Regions from separate parts of the Homo sapiens genome. Here region 2 is linked to region 1. A link means that fine-mapping ties the variant in region 1 to the expression of a gene that starts in the linked region. Tissue or cell type: whole blood. Region 1 holds a variant in brackets; the other region holds the start of a gene. All regions are shown on one strand. Distances are between the middles of the regions.

Region 1 (10,568 bases):
GCACTTTGGGAGGCCAAGGCGGGCAGATCATCTGAGGTCAGTAGTTTGAGACCAGCCTGACCAACATGAAGAAACCCCGTCTCTACTAAAATACAAAATTAGCCGGGTATGGTGGCGCATGCCTGTAATCCCAGCTACATGGGAGGCTGAGGCAGGAGAATTGCTTGAACCCGGGACGCAGAGGTTGCAGTGAGCCAAGATCATGCCATTGTACTCCAGCTTGGGCAACAAGTGCAAAATTCCATCTAAAAAAAAAAAAAATTAGCCAAGTGTGGTGGCAGATGCCTGTAATCCCAGTTATTCAGGAGGCTGAGGAAGGAGAATCGCTTGAACCCGGGAGGCAGAGGGTGCAGTGAGCCAAGATTGCCACAGAGTGAGACTTCATCTCAAAAACAAAAAAAAGGATGCAGGACTATATTAGAAAATGTTAAGCTTAACATGAATAATTCCAAAGAAATGTTTTGGTTTTTGTCCCTTAAACTGCTATTATAGATTTTTTAATTGTTATTTTTCCCTTAAATAGCTATTTATTACATTCCCCTCAGTGAGTCCTCATGGCTTGGATATGAGGTGTGACTGACTTAGGAGGAGGTGAAGCATCTGAAAACCTGTCATCAGCCAGAAGAATCATTTTAAATGACCATGTTATTCCCCTGCCTAATCCCCTGCAATGCTGTCTGCCCACATAAACCCTAACTCTTCCCCCAGCCTGCAGAGCCTGCAGAACCAGCCAATGCCCTCTCCCCTGACTCCATGCTCCTTCCCTCCCCTTCACTTGCCCCAGTGCCCAATGTTGCCTTACTGGCCTTTTACATTTTTAAACTTGTTAGTTCTTCAAATACTGTTGTAGCCATTTGGAAAAATAAAATCTGCACAAATATCTTTTAGCAATTTGTTTTGGGGGTTGTGTGTGTATTTAAATCCCATGTTTATATGAACACTAGGTGATAATAAGCTCTCGCTAAAGGTAACAGTCTTGGCCGGGCGCAGTGGCTCACGCCTGTAATCCCAACACTTTGGGAGGCCAAAGCAGGCAGATCACTTGAGATTCAGCCTGGCCAATATGGAGAAACCCTGTCTCTATTTTAAAAAATAAATTTTAAAAAACAGTAACAGTCTTATGTGACTTTGCATCCTCCACAATTTCTAGCACAGTATTTTACACGGAACTAATGCTTAACTTTCACACGTGATTTTTTGAGAGTTGCAAGACATCCATAGTCGGATCAACAATTTTTAAAGAATTAGAACACCCCCAAAGTTATACCTTATCTTACAAATCACATTATACATAATTACATCTTTCTTTAATTATCAAAGAATCACTTTAGAACATTAGAGTTCTTCCAGATCACTGAATAGGAATTTCAACCATTACATTCCAGTACTTAGAGAAAATGTAAATATAATTGCCTTTAGTCAAACAAAACAAAAATAATATATTTGGATGATGAACAAGTCACCCAGAAAGGGCTGAAAATTAGCATGACAGGGAGAGAAAACATTTCTGGGTTGGCGACGTTGAAACACTGGCTGTGCATTAGTCCAGGTGTGGGAATTCCAGCCTCGTCCTATGTTGCTGGGATTCTGTTTAGTCTCAGGCAAGGACTTGCCTTCCAGGCCTTAGTTCCTTCTTCTGTAAAATGGACACACTTGCCTGTTTCAGAGGACTGAGGTGATGATTAAGACCCGTGCACCTGCTTTGGTATGCACCGCATTAGACAGTGGGCTCACACTTGATTAGGATCGGAATCACCTGGAGGACTTGTTAAACACAGATTGATGGGCCCTACTCCCAGAGAGTCCGATTAAGTTGATCTGGGGTGGAGCCCAAGAATTTGCATTTCCAACAATTTCCCAGGTGCTACTGGTGCTGCTGCCTGGAGCCCACCTTTCGAGAGCCCCTGGTCTGCACCATACCAGGCTGTTGGATAACTCTGTCTGGGGTGGATTAGACAAAATTCTGCGGGCAGGAGGTTTTCCTGGCCACTGTCAGAATACCTCCTCTAGAACTTCCGATTTCAAAGCAAACAAGTTTGTTCAGCATGGACCCTTCTTTTTGTTGTTCTCCCTCTATCTGAGAACATCTCCCTGTTGCATTTTGCTATTCAAAACCAGAAGAAAAGAGAGTAGATGTAGATGATTTCTGGCTTTGTGTAACCCAACAAATAATAGCCACTAATAGCACTTGATATATATATAGTGGGAGAGATACCTGTATAGGAGCAGTCAGGATAGCTGGGAGATTGAGTGTTGGATGAATTTTAACTTGGATGTGGGAGATTAAGGTGCTGGTAGCAAGACTATTGTATTAGTTTTCTATTGCTGTATAATAAATTACCTCAAAACCTAGGATTTTAAAACAACACACATTTATATTTTATAGTTTCTGAGACTTAGGAAATCAAGAGTGACTTTGTGGGGTGGTTCCGGCTCAGGGTCTCTCATGAGGTTGCAGTCGTTTCCCAGGGCAGTGGTCATCTGGAAGCTTGACTGCAGCTGGAGGACCCACTTCCAACATGGCTCGCTCATGCAGCTAGCTGGTGGCTGTTCCTTGCCAAATGGGTCTGTCCATAGGGATCCTTGGGAGATGGCAACTGGCTTTCCCCAGAGGGAGGGACCCAAGATAGCAAGTGAGCAACCAAGATAGAAGCTGCAGTATCTTTTTTTTTTGGAGACGGAGTGTCGCTCTGTTGCCCAGACTGGAGTGCAGTGGTGCTATCTCAGCTCATTGTAACCTCCGCCTCCCGGGTTCAAGCGATTCTTCTGCCTCAGCCTCCCGACTAGCTGGGACTACAGGCGTGTGCCACCATGCCGGCTAATTTTTGTATTTTCAATAGAGACAGGGTTTCACCATATTGGCCAGACTGGTCTTGAACTCCTAACCTTGTGATCCGCCAGGCTTGGCCTCCCAAAGTGCTGGGATTACAGGCGTAAGCCACCGTGCCCGGTCTGCAGTACCTTTTATAACCCAATTTCAGAAGTAACATGCCATCGCATCTGCCATATTTTATTGGTTACACAAAACGACCCCAGAAAAATGTGGGAAGTGTTGTACAACGGATACCAGCAGGTGGGGAGCACTGGGGGCTAATCTTGAGACTAGCTACCAAGGTTATTTTCATTAAGAAGCTTCTCTCTCCCCTAACTCCTCTATTTCTTCTCAAATGAACTGGTCCATGAGCTTGCAGAATGTTCTGGAAGAACCATGCCAGGGCTGCATTTATCTTCCCTGCATACTCTACCCCTCTCCATTCTGTTCTGTGACCTCCCCAACACTGACTTCTAGATAGCACCAACCAGATTCTCTTATCCTCTGCTTTCCTGTTGGGTCCAGCCAGTGGGAGGCCGCAGCAGGAGTCAGGAGCGGAGAAGAGAGAGGAGACAGGATATGGATCGCCTGGCTCTCTGCCTGTCACACCGCTACGGTCTGGCTGTCTCTCTCACAGCCCCTGCTCCCGCCAGCCTGCTCTCTCCATAAGCTTCCCTCTCCTGCTTCTGGTAACCATTTCAGCCCTTCACACCTTCAGGCCTGGGGTGCTCATAGCTCCTGCTGTCGCTGGCCGCTGGGTAGTGCATTATCCTTTCTGGGTTCCCCTACATCCTGCCCACAGCTGTGTAAATCACTCTGTTCTTAAGATCTCCTCAATCAAGATTTGCAGTCTCCCTCCTGCTATGGCCCTTACGGCAGCAATACCTGACTGGCATCACAGTGAAATTTCTGCTCAGAGGAAAAAAGCCTCGTGGACATTTACTGTTTTGGCCCAACTATATCCCACTCCCCTTCCCCTGGTAACGCTGTCCCAGTGTTCCCCTGGGAAACAGTCCCCACCCCTCAATCCATGAATTTCAGGTCAGAGCTAAGCCTATCATCCCTCACCCTAATAGTGGCCATGTGACTCAGTGCTGGCTGATCAGAATATCACAGCCCTGGCCGGGTACGGTGGCTCACGCCTGTAATCCCAGCACTTTGGGAGGCTGAGGCAGGCAGATCATGAGGTCAGGAGATCGAGGCCATCCTGGCTAACATGGTGAAACCCTGTCTCTATAAAAATACAAAAAATTAGCTGGGCGTGGTGGCACGTGCCTGTAGTCCCAGCTACTCGGAAGGCTGAGGCAGGAGAATCGCTTGAACTCGGGAGGCAGAGCTTGCAGTGAGCCGAGATCATGCCATTGCACTCCTGCCCGGGCGACAGAGCAAGACTCCATCTCAAAAAAACAAAAGAATATCACAGCTCTCTGGCCGATCATTGATTCAGGATGGGCACGTGCCCTAAGCAAGAGCCCAGGTTGTTCATCTCTGAGACTTTAATTAGGGACTGTGTAAAAAGAGGAGCTTCTTCTCTAGAGCTGCTGAGAGGGGCAGATGAAGCCTAGAAGTCATGGCCATTGTTGCAACTACACGAGAGTCTGTCTGTGGGAGAAAATGATAAAGAAGAGTGCAGAGTAGAGTGTGATACTGTGTCCAGAGACACCATTTGAGCCCCTAGATTCAGCAATGGCTGAAGAGAATTTATTCTTAGACTCCCCAGTTACGAGTTAATATATTCTTTTTTTTTTTTGCTCAAACAAAAAGAAAAAGATGAAGAGAATGAGAAGGAAAATGAGAAGAAAAGTTATCTACAAAAAATTATATATGCATGATGCCTAGAGTTCATATATTGGTAATTTCATTTTTAACGGTGCAGCTGTTATTCAGATTTTTGTTTTACTTCAGTACTGAACACAAAAATAAAAAAACTTTCCAAACGGAAATAATGTTTCGTTGTGTTTTTTCTCAGCCTGTCTGAGAAACATTCTAAACATTCTTTGTGACTACCTATTCATTCATTCATTCATTCAGCAGTCAGCAAGCATAGAGCAGATTTTGTAAGCCAAGACAGTGCCATGCTGAACGCTGCAGAGACAAAAGATGAATAGGACACTGGCTCTGGTCTTAGAGGGTGGGTCTCCGTGGAGTCACGATAAAGATGCAAATCCAAGACTCAGCACATATTTGCATGTGGGCAATTCATTAATATCTCTCTGTCAGTTTTCCCCATCTGTAAAATAGCTGTAGCAAACCTTCTTTAGGGCTCATGGCAGTTAAGGGAGACCATTTATGTGCATCCAGCACAGAGCTGTCACTCACTACTAGGTGGCTACTCTAGGCATGGCTCATGTTCCGGCAGAGGGAACTCAGATAAATAGTTCAATGAGAAAGGGCTCTGTGAACTGGGAATGGGAAACACCAGTTCAAAAAGTGGAAGAGTCACAAGCTGTGATGAGAGAGTAGACCTTGAAGGATGGATGAGTGTTCATCAGAAGACGCCATTTCAAGCAGACAACAGTACAGGGGCCAGACTGTGCTCAGCACACTGGAGGAGCTTAAAGAAGTAGCTATGGCTGGACCAGAAACCCAGGTTCACAGTAAGGGCCATCATGTGAGCTCAGAGGTCAGGCGGAGCTGAGGCTGTGCAGAATGTGAACTTTGGCCTGAGGAACAGCAACTGTTGGGAGGTGAGAAACGGGAGAGCTGTGATTTGGATTGAGCAGAGTGGCAGCCCACCTGCAGGATGGTACCCAATGAGGTTCACCTCTGGGCATCTAACACCCTCTGTCTCTTTCCATAGGGAGCAGGGCTGACCTGTGTAACTCAATAAGATGGTGCCAAATGATGCAGTGTGACTTCTGAGACTAGTTAATAAAAGACATCATGGCTCCACCTGTGCTCTCTTGGATCATTTGCTTCAGGGGAAGCCAGGGGCCACATCATGAGGACACTCAGCTATCCCTATGGAAAGACCCAAGTGGTGAGGAGCTGAGACCTTTTGCTAGCAGCCAGCACCAACGTGCCAGCTGTGTGAATGGGCCATTTTGCAAGTGATCCTCTGTATTTGTTTCCTAGGTCTGCCATATCAAAGTACCCTGAACTGGGTGGCTTCAAACAACAGAAACTTATTGTCTCATAGTTGTGGAAGCTGGAAATCCAAAATCAAGGTGTTGGCAGAGCCATGCTTCTTCTGAAACCTGCAGGGGTGGGTTGTGTGTGGGGAGTTGTTTCTTGCCTCTTCTAATTTCTGGTGTTTGTTGGCAAGCAATTTCTGGTGTGCCTTGTCTAGTAGAGGCATCCCTGTGATCTCTGCCCCTGTTGTCACATGGTCATCTTCTCCCTGTGTGTGTGTCTTCTCCTCTTCTGATAAGGACATGTCATATTGGATTAAGGGCCCAGTTACTCTAGTGTGATCTCATTTTAACTTATATCTTCATTGCATCTGCAAAGACCCTATTTCCAAATAAGGCCACATTCTGAGCTATTGGGGGTTAGGACTACAACGTATCTTTTTTGGGGAAGACGCAATTTAATCAATAATATTCTCCAAATCCAGTGAGGCCTTCAACCGGCTGCAGCCTTGGTTGATATCTTCACTGTCACCTCGGCTGACATCTTGACTGTAGCCTCATGAGAGACCCGCTTTCCTGCCCCACAGAACTGGGTGAACTAACAATGTCCATGCTTGTTTTATGCCATTAAGTTTTGGGGCACTTTGTTATGTGGGAATAGGTAACTAACATTCAAAGGGAGGTTAGGGAATGAAAGACTGAAGCCAGGAGACCAGGACCTTTCTCTGGCCTGAGAAGGAACATGGCCTCCCAAGCAGTCCCACTCACAGATCTTCAGGCCACATCAGCTCTTGTCTCAAATCTAGGCCTTTGTGCACAAAACATTTCATACTTTTATGCCTATTTTGTCCTATATAAATCCACTTTGTTGAGAAATTGTTCTTTGAGTGGTCATTTCACTTGAGCGGTTCTGAGTTTCATTGAGAATCAAGAGCGGCCGACTCACCATCGGTCCTCTCTGAGGAGATCTTCTGTGCAGGGACACCTCCTGGGCTACTAGCCAGTGCTCTGATTGGCTGGCCTTGGGCTGGGTGCCTCCTCCTGGTTCAATATACCATGGCTGGGGGGTGGGGGCACAGGTACCAAGCAGGGCCACCTGTGGGGAAAAGTGGCCTGGGTGGGTTTCCCTCAGCAGGGGCTCTGGACAGGCCTGTGTCTTGAGAGCAGACATGGTGGGCTCTGGGACTTGGCAGTCTGTGAGGAGGCCTGGTTTTTTCCTCTCTAAGAACAGGGCTTTTAAATCCAGTGTGAATACAGCTCACTGTGCCTCTCACTTCCCGTGTGAGAAAAACCACAGAAAAGCACAGCTGCACCTACATGAGAAACCACGCAAACCAAGCCACTTCCCCCAAGTCTGGTTTAGCCAAAAATGCATTTGATTTCCTGTCTCCATGTTGTGGTCAAGATTGCCATTTGCTTCCTGAGTTTCAGGATCACAATCGACAAAAACATAATCACAACCATTAGTCATAGATATATTTTTTCCCTGAAAATGATTTATTTTCCCGTCCTCTACTTTGTTCTGTCATCTGGCAGCTACTTCTTTTAATTGTAAAAATTACTTT[G/A]TTCTACCACCATTAGTTGCTTTTCCCCTCATTTCTACTTCACGAGCAATTCATTCTAAATTGTTGGTAGAAAATAACTCAGGGAAAGTTCGTGGTGCTCTGCCCAGAAGGGCAGAATGAGGATCCTGCAGGTGCTGATTAGATGTTTACTGGGTGAAGTAGTTCTGCCAAGTCTGTATTTAGCGCTGGCCTCTCTTTCTCAGGCTTATTTGAATCATCTTGGCATAAGGCAATGATATGCATTTTTAGGTAATTTCTGTCTCCCTGGGGTTTGAGGCAGGGAAGCAGACTGGGCGGTGGGTAGCCACATCTGGGGCCGCTTCTGGACTGCCAGCTCACGCCTGGTGGGAGCTGCGCTGGGCGAGAAAGCGAACTCCGTCATCTGGTGGGAGAGGTCCTGCTCCCCTTCCAGAGGGACTTCCTAGGGCGTGGGGAACCCAAGGCTTGCTCAGGAATTCCAAGTCCTTGCTGCTTATTCCCTGAAGACTTGACTCATCCCAGACCTTTCCGAGGGATCAGTGAGTCAGCAGGGGCTGGTGCTGGCTCTGCTTTTTCCCACATGGTTTATTCAACATGCATTCTATGAATAAAAAACCGAGGCCCAAGGTCTCCCCAGTGAGGAGTTAATGGTGAGGCCATGCATGGAAACCCCATCAGTCTGACTGCAGAATCCACATTGTTAATTGTCCTGCCTAAAAGCCAGAAAAGGATCTGGAGGCCTACACCGTGGGGGAATAGGGAGATCATTTCATTTTTCTTGCTTTATAAAATCGTGTGATGTTTAAGCATATACTGTTTAAAATAACTAAAAAGGAGTTCAAACTAAATGGCCACATTTAAGAGGCAAATCACTGAAGACTAATTATCCATTCTGTACTTAAAAAATGATCTGAAACAGCTACTAGGCATGCAGTCAAAATCCTTTTTTAAATGGCTTTGAAATATTGGACACAAATTACACAGAAATCAGTGGCCTAAAAATGTCTTCACCATATTGAGTCTGATAATTTTGCATCTGGAATTCCTAACATGGGAAGCTCCTGCTCTGTGCCTGTTGGGTGATTGAATAAATGCATGACTAAAGTGGGCCACCCTTCATGCCCTTCACGGCAGTCCCTGCAACTTATCTCTATGGGGTGCCAGGCATCGCTGCAAAGCAACGAGATCCTCTATAGGGCTCCAGATCAAATTATACCAGCATCAATCCATCCTGCACAGTCGGGCAACGTGCCCAACTCTTGCCCAAAGCTACCGTGATTTATTAAGGTCCCTGGAATCCCTGGATGAGCTGTGTCGTACAGAAAGAATTCTATTACTCATACCTTCCCATGGCTGCCCCCGTCTCAACATTTCCAGTCCCCACCCGCCCTTCACCCCGAAGCGTTGCACTCTCTCCAGTTATTCCAGGTCCTGCCTACACATTCCATTTACTGACAGAAAATTCCATTACTGGCAGATGTGAGGAACGCTTCTTTTCTATTTTTAAAAGCCGCTTTAAGGTCTACGTTTCTGACGTTGCTGGTGGCGCTAGCATTGCCATTTCATCTGGCTAGAGTTCTGGTCGACCAGAATGGGAAGGTTCCCCACAAGGGCCATTTCTAATTGAGCTTTTGCTTTGAGAGCTTGTTTCTTACCTCAGGAAATGTTTAAGGCTTATGAAATATTTACATGTCCTGGGTGTCACTTGATCAACAAGATAAAAAAAAAAAAAAAAACCCCAAGCCACTGCTTTGTGGATGTGTAAAATATAAACTGACATTTATTTTTGTTTTAGCTTGAGACCAATCGCATACTGAGAGATTTGTTAGAGGAAGATGTGGCTTGAAAAAGATAAATGTGAACAGAAAATACCCCCTAATGTCTCGATGATTGAGGTTTAAGAGGAAGACACTGAGGGAATCTGCCTCTCCTACTTTTTCCACAGTTCCCAGGGTGGAATCTGGTGCCACAGAAGTGGGCTCCTGCCCTTAAGGCAGAAAGATGGTCCCAGGGCTTGTAGCCTGTGGAAGTGCAAGGCTGTCAACATGATGGCCAGAGTCCGCCCCACAGACCACACACTTTTCCTAGTCCCTCTCATACAAGCGCCCATAGAGAGCCGCCGTCACCAGCCCAGAGGACAGCCTACTTTTCCTCAGGAAATAGTGGTCATTCTCCCAGCCAAGCTGGTCAGGGACTTCTAGGGTCATCCCTGAGGTCAGAAACAAAGGAAAGATATAGGAAGTACTGAAGTTGCCCCACAGGTGAAACTCAAATATCCCCGTGGCCTCTGTGATTTCCTGTCCACAGGTGTCGAAGCCAAGACCCCCACACCTGACCAGGGCACACACTTGGATGTAGTAAGTGCCATGTACTGTGTGAAGCCCATCAAAGACCCCCAGGGCATACAGCTCTTTGGATAAGGTGGGCCTCTCGTAAAGTAAATAACAGCAGAGGCCATTGGAACAGACGTGGAGATAGCCTTCCTTTCCCCAGACAGGGACCAGGGTGAAATTGTCATACATCATCTCAGAGTGAAATGTGGGAGGAGCATTCACGTTCCACTTGGTGGCCTCATCACAGTGGACTTCCTGAGCATCCTTCTCACAGTACGGATCGCCTGACAAAATTTTTAAAAACTTACTATGGGATGGGTCCGTTTCACCTGTTGCATTCTCTGCACCAATGAGACCCACTGGATTTTTGGCCACCTGGGCAATTATAAGGTGACTTTTGGGATTTTCCATGTCATGGTACCAAAAGGACTCCAGAGGGGTGTGTATGCCACTTCCTGTCATCCCCAGAACTGGGTGGTGGACATTAGCTGCCAGAACGTTGATGCCAAAGGCAACAGCAAAAGCTTTCTGAATCTCAATTGCTGCCAAGAGTGGGAGCTGGTTCATCCAGGCAGTTGGGTACACAACATGCTTCACCTTGTAGTCTCTGAGGACTCTGATGGCAGGGTCAAAGAACAATATATCAAAGCATGTGAAGATGCCAAACCTGCCAGCAAAGGGGGTATCAAAGGTGATGAGATCCACTTTAAGAGGAACATCGAATGCTGCCTCAAAGTAGAGGTTGTGTTTACGGTAGCGGTCAACAAGGGTTCCATTATTGCTGAACACGACATTTGTGTTGAACTGG
Region 2 (9,845 bases), 48 kb after region 1:
GGTACTGATATAAATAATACATGATGGAAGGGGAAGTCTGTACTTCTTCAACAAGGACAGGAGGCATTGTGTCAAGGACTACTCAAAGTGCAAAGATGATTTCACATCTTTTTTTTTTTTTTTTTTTTTTTTGAGACAGGGTCTCGCTCTGTCACCCAGGCTAGAGTACAGTGGTGCAATCTTGGTTTACTGCAACATCTACCTCCCTGGCTCACACGATTCTCCCACCTCAGTCTCCCGAATAGCTGGGATTACAGGCATGTGCCACCACACCTGGATAATTTTTGTATTTTAGCAGAGATGGGGTTTCACCACATTGGCCAGGCTGGCCTCGAACTCCTGACCTCAGATGATCTGCCCACCTCGGCCTCCCAAAGTGCTGGGATTACAGGCATGAGCCATTGTGCCCAGCCCGTTTCACATCTTTCTGGAATGTCAATTTTACTTGACAGGTAAGCAGTTTAAAATGTCATTTTTATTTTGGGTGGTGATTTCATAGATATATATATATATAACTGTCAAAACTCATCTAACATTTAAAATCTGGACATTGAATTGTATCTTTATTATATCTCAATAAATGTCATTTTAAAATTAAAATATGGATACATTCTAGAGTATAATACAAAATCTGCATTTTCTTTTTAGATACACTCTGAGACTTGAAAGAAGTCACCCTCTGAGATGGGTCCCTGATATGGTTTGGTTATGTCCCCACTCAAATCTCATCTTGAATTATAGCTCCCATAATCCCTACATATCATGAGCGGTACCTGGTGGGAGGTAACTGAATCATTGGGGAGGGTTTTTCCCATGCTGTTCTTGTGATAGCAAATAAGTCTCAAGCTGTGATGGTTTTATAAATGGGAGTTTCCCTGCACACACTCTCTTGCCTGTCGCCATGTAAGACGTGCCTTTGCTCCTCCTTCATCTTCCACCATGATTGTGACGTCTCTCCAGCCATGTGGAACTGTGAATCTATTAAACCTCTTTTTCTTTATAAATTACCCAGTTTTGAGTATTTCTTCATAGCAGTATGAAAAGGGACTAACACAGAAAATTGGTAATGCAGAGAGTGGGGCACTACTGTAAAGACAGCCGAAACTGTGGAAATAACTTTGGAACTGGGTAACTGGCAGAAGTTGGAACAGTTTGGAGGGCTCAGAAGAAGATAGGAAAATGTGGGAAAGTCTGGAACTTCCTAGAGACTTGGAGGGCTCAGAAGACAGGAAAATGTGGGAAAGTTTGGAACCTCCTAGAGACTTATTGAATGGCTTTGACCAAAATGCTGATAGTGATATGGACAATAAAATTCAGGCTGAAGTGGTTTCTGATGGAGATGAGGAACTTATTCAGAGTTGGAGTAAAGGTCACTCTTGCTATGCAAAGAGACTAGTGGCATTTTGCCCCTGTCCTAGAGATCTGTGGAACTTTGAACTTGAGAGAGATGATTTAGGGTATCTGGCAGAAGAAATTTCTAAATGGCAAAGTGTTCCAGAGGAAGCAGAGCATACAAATTTGAAAAATCTGCAGACTGACGATGCAGTAGAAAATAAAAACCCATTTTCTAGGGAGAAATTCAAGCTGGCAGCAGAAATTTGCATAGGTAATAAGAAGCTAACTATTAATCACCAAGACAATGGGGAAAATGTCTCCAGGGCATGTCAGAGACCTTCACAACAGGCCCTCCCATCACAGGCCCAGAAACCTAGGAGGAAAAATGGTTTCATGGGTCAGGTCCAGGGTCCCCCTGCTGTTTGCAGCCTAGGGACTTGGTGTCCTGCATCCCAGCCATGCCAGCCATGGCTAAAAAGGGCCAATGTACAGCTCAGGCCTGGCTTCAGACAGTGCAAGCCTGAAGCCTTGGCAGCTTCCACATGGTGTTGAGCCTGCAGGTGCACAGAAGTCAAAAATTGAGGTTTGGGAACCTCTGCCTAGATTTCAGAGGATGTATGGAAATGCCTGGATGTCCAGGCAGAAGCTTGTTGCAGGGGTAGAGCCCTCATAGAGAACCTCTGCTAGGGCAGTGTGGAAGGGAAATGTGGGGTGGGAGCCCCCATACAGAGTCCCTCCTGGGGCACTGCTGGTGGAACTGTGAGAAGAGGGCCACCGTCCTCCAGACCCCAGAATGGTAGATCTACTGACCACTTGCACCATGTGCCTAGAAAAGCTGCACACACTCAATATTAGCCTGTGAAAGCAGCTGGGAGAGGGGGTTGTAGCCTGTAAAACCACAAGGGCAGAGCTGCCCAAGGCTGTGGGAGCCCACCTCTTGCATCAGCATGATCTGGCTGTGAGATACGAAGTCAAAATGATCCAAAGATCATTTTGGAGCTTTAATATTTGACTGCCCTGCCAGATTTTGAACTTGCATGGGGGCTTTAGCCCCTTTGTCTTGACCAATTTCTCCCATTTGGAACGGGTATATTTACCTCACTCCCGTGCACCCATTGTATCTAGGAAGTAACTATCTTGCTTTTATTTATTTATTTTTAAATTTAATTTTATTATTTTTTTTGAGACGGAGTCTCGATCTGTCCCCCAGGCTGGAGTGCAGTGGCCCAATCTCAGCTCACTGCAAGCTCTGCCTCCCGGGTTCACACCATTCTCCTGCCTCAGCCTCCTGAGTAGCTGGGATTACAGGCGCCTGCCACCATGCCCGCCTAATTTTTTGTATTTTTAGTAGAGATAGGGTTTCACCGTGTTGACCAGGATGGTCTCCATCTCTTGACCTCATGATCCGCCCGCCTCGGCCTCCCAAAGTGCTGGGATTACAGGTGTGAGCCACTGCGCCCAGCCACTAGCTTGCTTTTGATTTTACAGGCTCATAGGCGGAAGGGACTTGCCTTGTCTCAGATGAAACTCTGGACTGTGGACTTTCGAGTTAATGCTGAAATGAGTTAAGACTTTGGGGGACTGTTGGGAAGGCATGATTGGTTTTGAAATGTGAGGATATGATATTTGGGAGGGGCCAGGGGCAGAACAGTTTGGCTGTGTCCTCATCCAAATCTCATCTTGAATTATAGCTCCCATAATCCCCACATGTGGTGAGAGGGACCCAGTGGGAAGTAACTGAATCATGGGGAGGGGATTTTTCCCATGCTGTTCTAATGATAGTAAGTCTCATGAGATCTGATGGTTTTATAAAGGGCAGTTCCCCTGCACACGCTCTCTTGCCTGCCACCATGTAAGACATGCCTTTGCTCCTCCTTCACCTTCTGCCATGATTGTGAGGCCTCCGTAGCCATTTGGAACTGTGAGACCATTAAACCTCTTTTTCTTTATAAATTACCCAGTTTTGGGTATTTCTTTATAGCAGTATGAAAATGGACTAACACCGTCCACATATGCAGGGAGGCAACCACTTCACTCTCCTCTGCTTGGGGTGGGGTTGAGGGGTTGAGAAAAAGAGGGGAAGACCTTTTGAAAAGACCCAGGACTACAGTTTGAAAATGTCTGGGTTTAGAAATCGTTTCACTTCCAGTGCTTCTCACTCATTTCACTACCCATGACCCACTCCCCTCTCATCTCTTTACTGTCCACTTATCACTGTTCTTTTTGCTTAAAATGACTCCAAATCCTCAAAAAATTAAAAGTTCCACTGTTTATTACAATTGGAAATTTTATGTTTATTGTCACTGAGCAGAGGGTCTAATGACTCCAAGGCAGTAGTTTCAGATATTGCACATTGCAAACGATTTTCACACAAAAATGTTTTAAAAGGCTATCGGGTGCAGGGCTGGTTGTAGGTAGGGACCCAACCTAAGAATTATGAAACGCCATAGTTCCTAATTTTGGAAAGATATTAGCGGAGAGTAATATGGATTAGTAGCAAGGGCTGGAGAAAACAGTGCTCTATACTACCTTCAAGGTGCTCTTTTCATCGCTTGTGACCCAATGGCTGAATAGTGGGTAGGAAACAGGATTCAGGATCTCAGGCACGGTCTGGATCTACTGACTCTGAGCGTCATTTTATCTCTTGCTGGGGTACACATCTGCTTCTGGATTTAAGTAACGTGCGCTACAATAATTTAAGGACTATAAAACCACAAGGTTATGAGAGCGTAAACCACAAAGCGTGTAAGTAAATGCCTAGAAAACGCAACGCGGTAGCACAGCAGCAACGCACAAACAGCCCCAGCAAACGACGCGCGCCGGGCTTCCCAGCTCCCGGCAGCCTTTGCGCAGCCCTCCCCAAGTCCAACTGGGCGCCCGGGGCGGGGTCTGGACCGCACGCCCTTACCACACCCCCTCCGCGCCGCACCACGCCCCCTCCGTACCTGCTCTTAGCGCGCCTTCCGCCCTGAATATGCGCATGCGCCATTCTCCCTTTACAGCCCCGAAAACGCTCCAGCTGGCCGACTCGGAGACAATGGCGAGAGGCCTCAGAGTTCGGCTTCTTACCTGCTTTGCATAGGCAGCAATCTCCTGCTAGTCCCGCCTCCCTCTGGCATTCTGGCGCGCGAATGGAGGAGCCGAGAAGAGAGCGCAGTTCTGATTGGAGAACGCGCGTGTTTACATTCTCACCTCTCCCGGGAAGTGGACGAATTTAGACCGCCTCTTCCTTCCCGTTGTTTAAGGCAGTTGGTTGCCCTCCTGTCCGTCAGAGGTGCAGTACCAGAGGTGGCGTGCTGCCGATTTCGCGTTTGCCTTGCTGGATGATTCCGCTTGTTTGCCGGCTGCGTGAGTGCTTAGAGCTTTTCGGTGGAAGATGCCGGACAGTAACTTCGCAGAGCGCAGCGAGGAGCAGGTGTCTGGTGCTAAAGTCATCGCTCAGGCCCTGAAAACGCAAGTACGATGGACCTTCCTGGAATGAAAGGCTCCTACGGAAGCTGGCGGGGACCGCGATGTTGTCTTGGAGACGAGTAGAAATGGGCGATGGGGGTCGGGGGGTTTTCCTTTTAGCGCCCGGGAGGGAGGGAAGGATGTGGCGATATGGTGGGGCCTTGGGAGTTTACTCCCCTGTTCTTCGTTCCTCAGGATGTGGAGTACATATTTGGCATCGTAGGCATCCCAGTGACCGAAATCGCCATTGCTGCCCAGCAGCTAGGCATCAAGTACATCGGGATGAGGAATGAGCAAGCGGTGAGTATGGACTCAGGTGGCTGAATGCGTTACTGGGAATGATCAGTAATAGCGGTAGGTATGCATTGCAAACACCCAGATAGCGCTTACCACTCTTCTGCTACTTTACATATATCATATCAATCACTGTTGAATATTAACTGTTGTTACACCAAGTTGACAGATGAGAAAAGACACAGGTTAAGTAAAACTTGCCTTTGGTGACACAGCTGGTAGTAGCAGAGCCAGGGTTTGAACCCACGTATTCTGGGTCTGAGTCCATTCTCTTACTACTATACTGTATGTCATGATTGGAATGGACAGTTTATGAGTAAAGTCTGACTTCCCTATTAGGCTACAAGCTCCATTAGAGCAGGGATATTATTTCTTCACGACACATCTGTACCCCCAGTGCTTAGTGTGGTGCCTGCATAAGAAAGGTGTTCAGAGATTACCTGTGGGATAAATGAGTGAAGGCCAAGGCTTTGTTGTATGATTGGTTCGGGGCAGGGTGGAGGATATCACAAATGGTAGTGCCTTGATGGAAACTCAGATGGCTCAGATCCTAGCCTGATGCTTTTTCCACCACATCATGCTGCCACCTTTCTTAGAGGCTTATTTGGAAGCAGGATAAGGAAGATACGACGTTTTGTCAATCCACTTTAAGTGCATCCTCTGCCAATCCACCTTGCTCTTCTCTCAGTAGTGCGGGCTTGAAAGGTCAAGAATCCACTTCTGTGATATCACATACTCTCAGTCCAGCTGAGGCTAAATATTCCTGCTTTACACTCCCACCGTTGCCTTCTAATTTAAATTCTTGCCTCCTCTTGCCCAAACAACTGCCTGGCCACCCTAAGTGGTGCCTTTTGCCATCATACATGAGTGCCTGGAGGGCAGAAGTTGTGATTCATTTGTTATATCACCACAGTGCCTGGCTTGGTTTGTGCTTTCACGTGGTGTAGATGCTTAATATTATACATTATTTATTAATTGAATGACATTCTTTATTGAATGACATTCTTTATTGAATGACATTCTTTATCTACAAGGTTTGAGATTTGTATTTTTTAATCTTAAAACTAGGAGGTTTTGAGTTTCTGTTGCTTCTACATTTTACTTGTCTTTGTTAGAACAACATTCTGTTCTTTCATCTGTGTGAAAAAATGAAGCTATTGACCTATGAATGGAACCTATACTTAACTGTTTTTGTAGAGATGACATATCTGCCACTGATTTCTTCATACAGCAAACATTTATTGACTAAGTACTGTATACTAAGGATTGTGCTACATAACCTGTAGGAGAGAGGGATGTAAAGAAGGAGTGAGGTTTAGTCTTGATCTTCACGTTGATCAGTCCTGGAAGGTGAGGGTAAGACTTACAGAAAAAGACTCATCTATTATAACTCTCACAATAGATGTAGTAGCACAGAAGGGGTGACTGGTTCTCTTTGAGGACAGAGAAGATTGCCTGTAGAGGTAATGTTAGTTCATGTGGTTCCCTCAAGGTAGGTAAAGGCATGGTGAGCTGTGAGACTGGTAGGTAGGTTGAGGGGAGGTTGTGGGAAATCTAAAAAGAGTTTGAATTTTTTTTTTTTTTTAACAGTAGGCAATGGGGGAGACTAAAGGTTTTTCTAAACAGGTGGGCGATGTAATTAGATTTGTACTTCAGAAAGATGATGCGAGGCATGGTTGTACATGCCAGTAATCCCAGCTACGAAGGGGGCTGAGGCAGGAGGATTACTCAAGTCCAGGAATTAGAGGCTGCCTGGGCAACATAGCACGACCTCTGTCTCTAAGTTTTATTTCAGCCCCTATAAGCTTAGTTGAGGGTTCTTTAGGTCCCATGTGCTGTGTTGGGTGCTGGATACAGAGATGAATGATAGTTCCTGGCTTTAAGGGGCTTACAGCCAAGCTGTGGAGACAGACACAGACAATTGTATTATAAGGTGGTAAGTGCTGTGATAGAGAGATATCCAGGGTGCTATAAAGCCCAGAGAAGGAGTACCCAGGCTCAGCTTCCCACAGGAGATGATGTCTGAGCTGTCCTGAAGGATAAGCAGGCATTAACCAGTTAGGAAAGAGGAGGCAGGCTCCTCTGGAGATGATTCCTAGATTTTGGGCTTACTTGATTGATTGTGTAGATCATATTGTCTGTGACTGAGACTGGGAATATAGAGGGAAGAGCCAGCTTGGAGGAGAAAGGTGATGTTCAATTTTGAACACATGCATTTGAGATGTTGGTGGAACATCCCAGTGCATATGTCCCTCAAGCATCCTGACTCTATGGTAGTCAAAGGAAGACTTAAATGGTACCTGAACTAAGGGTAGTGACAGAATGATTCAGAGGGAACATGAAAACAGGCTAAGGCATTCAGGACATGTTTGTGATAAAGAGAAAGATGTAGTTGGGTGTGACTTCATTGTCTTTGATTAGATCCATAGAGTAATCAAGACATACTGACCAATTGGCCAGCAAGTAGGCAGATTGTCAGCAAGTTCATTGTTCTTGAGAGCTTACTGTGTGTGGGCACTATTTTGAGTGTTTTACACATACGAACTGATTTCATCCTCACAGCAGTGCTTTGAATTATTTTCATTTTATAGATGAAGAAACAGAGATTTAGAGCAACTTGCCAAAATTACACAGTAGAAAGTGGGGAAGCTGGGATTTAAATCAAAACAGATTGGCTCGAGAGTCCACTCTCTAAGTACCATGTACACTGTTCTGCCTGTGAATGGAGGTAGTTTAGTAGAGGAACAGATCTTTTATGGTCATAAAACCAGTTATGGCCAGGCGCGGTGGCTCACGCCTGTAATCCCAGCACTTTGGGAGGCTGAGGCAGGCAGATCACCTGAGGTCAGGAGTTTGAGACCAGCCTGACCAACATGGAGAAACCCCGTTTCTAAAAATATAAAATTAGCCAGGCGTGGTGGTGCATGTTTGTAATGCCAGCTGCTCGGGAAGCTGAGGCAGGAGAATTGCTTGAACCTGGGAGGTGGAGGTTGCCGTGAGCCAATATTGCATCATTGCACTCCAGCCTGGGCAACAAGAGCGAAACTCCGAAACTCTGTCTCAAAAAAAAAAAACAAAACAAAACAAAATAAAACAAAACAAAACAGTTACCTCTCAACTTTTGACATTTCCTACCAGAGGAATATACTTTTTGTTACGTGTTGTTGTATATTTTGCATTGCCTAGCAACATTTCTTACCTAGCTATCATAAGTGGGCAATTCTTTTGGGTGTCTAAATAAAGTGTTCTTATTGCAGCAGGTATTTACATGCCTGCATTTCTTAGGAGTTGTCTTATTCTCCTAATGTGAATTTGGCCTTATGTGCAAAAGGAAAGAGAGATGGGGCCAGTAGAGAATAGCGACACAGGAAAAGAGCAGAGTCTTTGTGCAGGTTCTCAGTGGGTGTATGATAGTAGAGCCAGTTAAGATTATGATCCATAAACATTTCCTTTTTTTTTTTTTCCACATTTATGTCGTTAATGTGGAGTTCTTTAAGACAGTATACTACTTCATTTAAAGCTGAATGAAGGCTAGGAAATACGCAATTCATTATTATTTCTAAAGAAATGAGAAGAAATAATACTGGGAAAAAAATGATGTCCCAGACTAAGAAGAATTTGAGAGAGCACTCAGCATTTTCCCAGGTTATCTTGTGTGCATTTAATTTAGTGCCCCCTCTCTTCCTGATTATGAGCTGAAGTAGAGTTACAAGGTAAAAACTATCCATATGCAGGCCATAAAGGAAATCTCAATAAATCGCCAAGGATTGAAAGCGTGCAGTATATGTCACCTGACCATGTGGAAGTAAAGTGGAACTCAATAAGAGATCACTAAAAAGAATCTCAGACCTTTGGAAATTAAGCAACATACTTTTTGGTATTTTGTAAATATTTGAAAAGATTAACAAAATGAATAAACTTCAAGATAGACTGATTGAGAATAAAAGAGAAAACAGATTACCAATGTCAGGAATGAAAAAGGAGGTATCACTACAGATCCTAATTAACCAATGGGTTGAAGAAGAAATCACAATGGAAAGTAGAAAATATTTTGAATAGAATGATAATGAAAAGATGCAACTCAAACTTGTAACCTATAACTAAAGCAGTTCTTGGAATCATTTTAAACAAATTATTAGTAAAGAAAATTAAAAACCAGTGTTCTAAATTTGTATTTTAAGAAGCTAGAAAAAGAAAAGCAAATCAAATTCAAAATGACTGAAATAATAAATACAAGAACAGAAATCAATGAAATAGAAAACAAACAATAGAGAAAAACCAACAAAAATTTTCGAAGAACTAAAAAAATTTGTTCTTTGAAAAGATGGATAAATTTGATAAACCCCTCATGAGACTGATGAAGAATAAAAGAAAGAAAACAAATTACCAATATTGTTAATAAAAGAGGACATTCCTATTGATCCTGCAGATATTTAAGCAATTGTAAGAGGATGTTTTGAATAACATACATATGAACAAATTTCCTGAAAAACTAAAATTTAGATAACCATTATTTGAAATTTATGTGTAGAACATTTATTACTAAGGTTGGAAATATTTTAATTCTGCCTTTACCACTATGTTCTTGTCTATTATTTAATAGTAAGTTGCTGTCATAAATGTACTATAAGGATCCCAATATGCTCAAGTCCCAGTGTTGTTTTCTCGTAGGCTTGTTATGCTGCCTCCGCGATTGGATATCTGACAAGCAGGTAAACTAAAATTTGTTTCACTTCAATTACTTTAATATTTTGGGGTAGAACTAT

What was found. PIP is the estimated chance that this variant, and not a neighbour inherited with it, causes the effect.
Region 2: BTD starts here. The variant in region 1 is fine-mapped to the expression of BTD in whole blood (TOPMed, PIP above 0.99). The same link has a PIP of 0.9 or more in blood mononuclear cells.

Annotation. Positions count from the first base shown.
Region 1 is chr3:15,644,432-15,654,999 of GRCh38, reverse strand. BTD (biotinidase) reads right to left here. Exons shown (of 4, transcript NM_001370658.1): 4 at 1,286-10,568. The coding sequence ends at 9,512. Among named protein-coding and RNA genes, the nearest start is that of MIR3134, 48 kb to the left of the region's middle. RefSeq lists a silencer at 7,064-7,358 and an enhancer at 7,785-8,318. The variant G/A (reference allele first, on the strand shown) is at 7,449.
Region 2 is chr3:15,596,330-15,606,174 of GRCh38, reverse strand. BTD (biotinidase) reads right to left here and starts at 4,430. Exons shown (of 4, transcript NM_001370658.1): 1 at 4,281-4,430. HACL1 (2-hydroxyacyl-CoA lyase 1) reads left to right here and starts at 4,606. Exons shown (of 17, transcript NM_012260.4): 1 at 4,606-4,792; 2 at 4,981-5,085; 3 at 9,751-9,791. The coding sequence starts at 4,712. RefSeq lists a silencer at 4,158-4,217 and an enhancer at 4,059-4,701.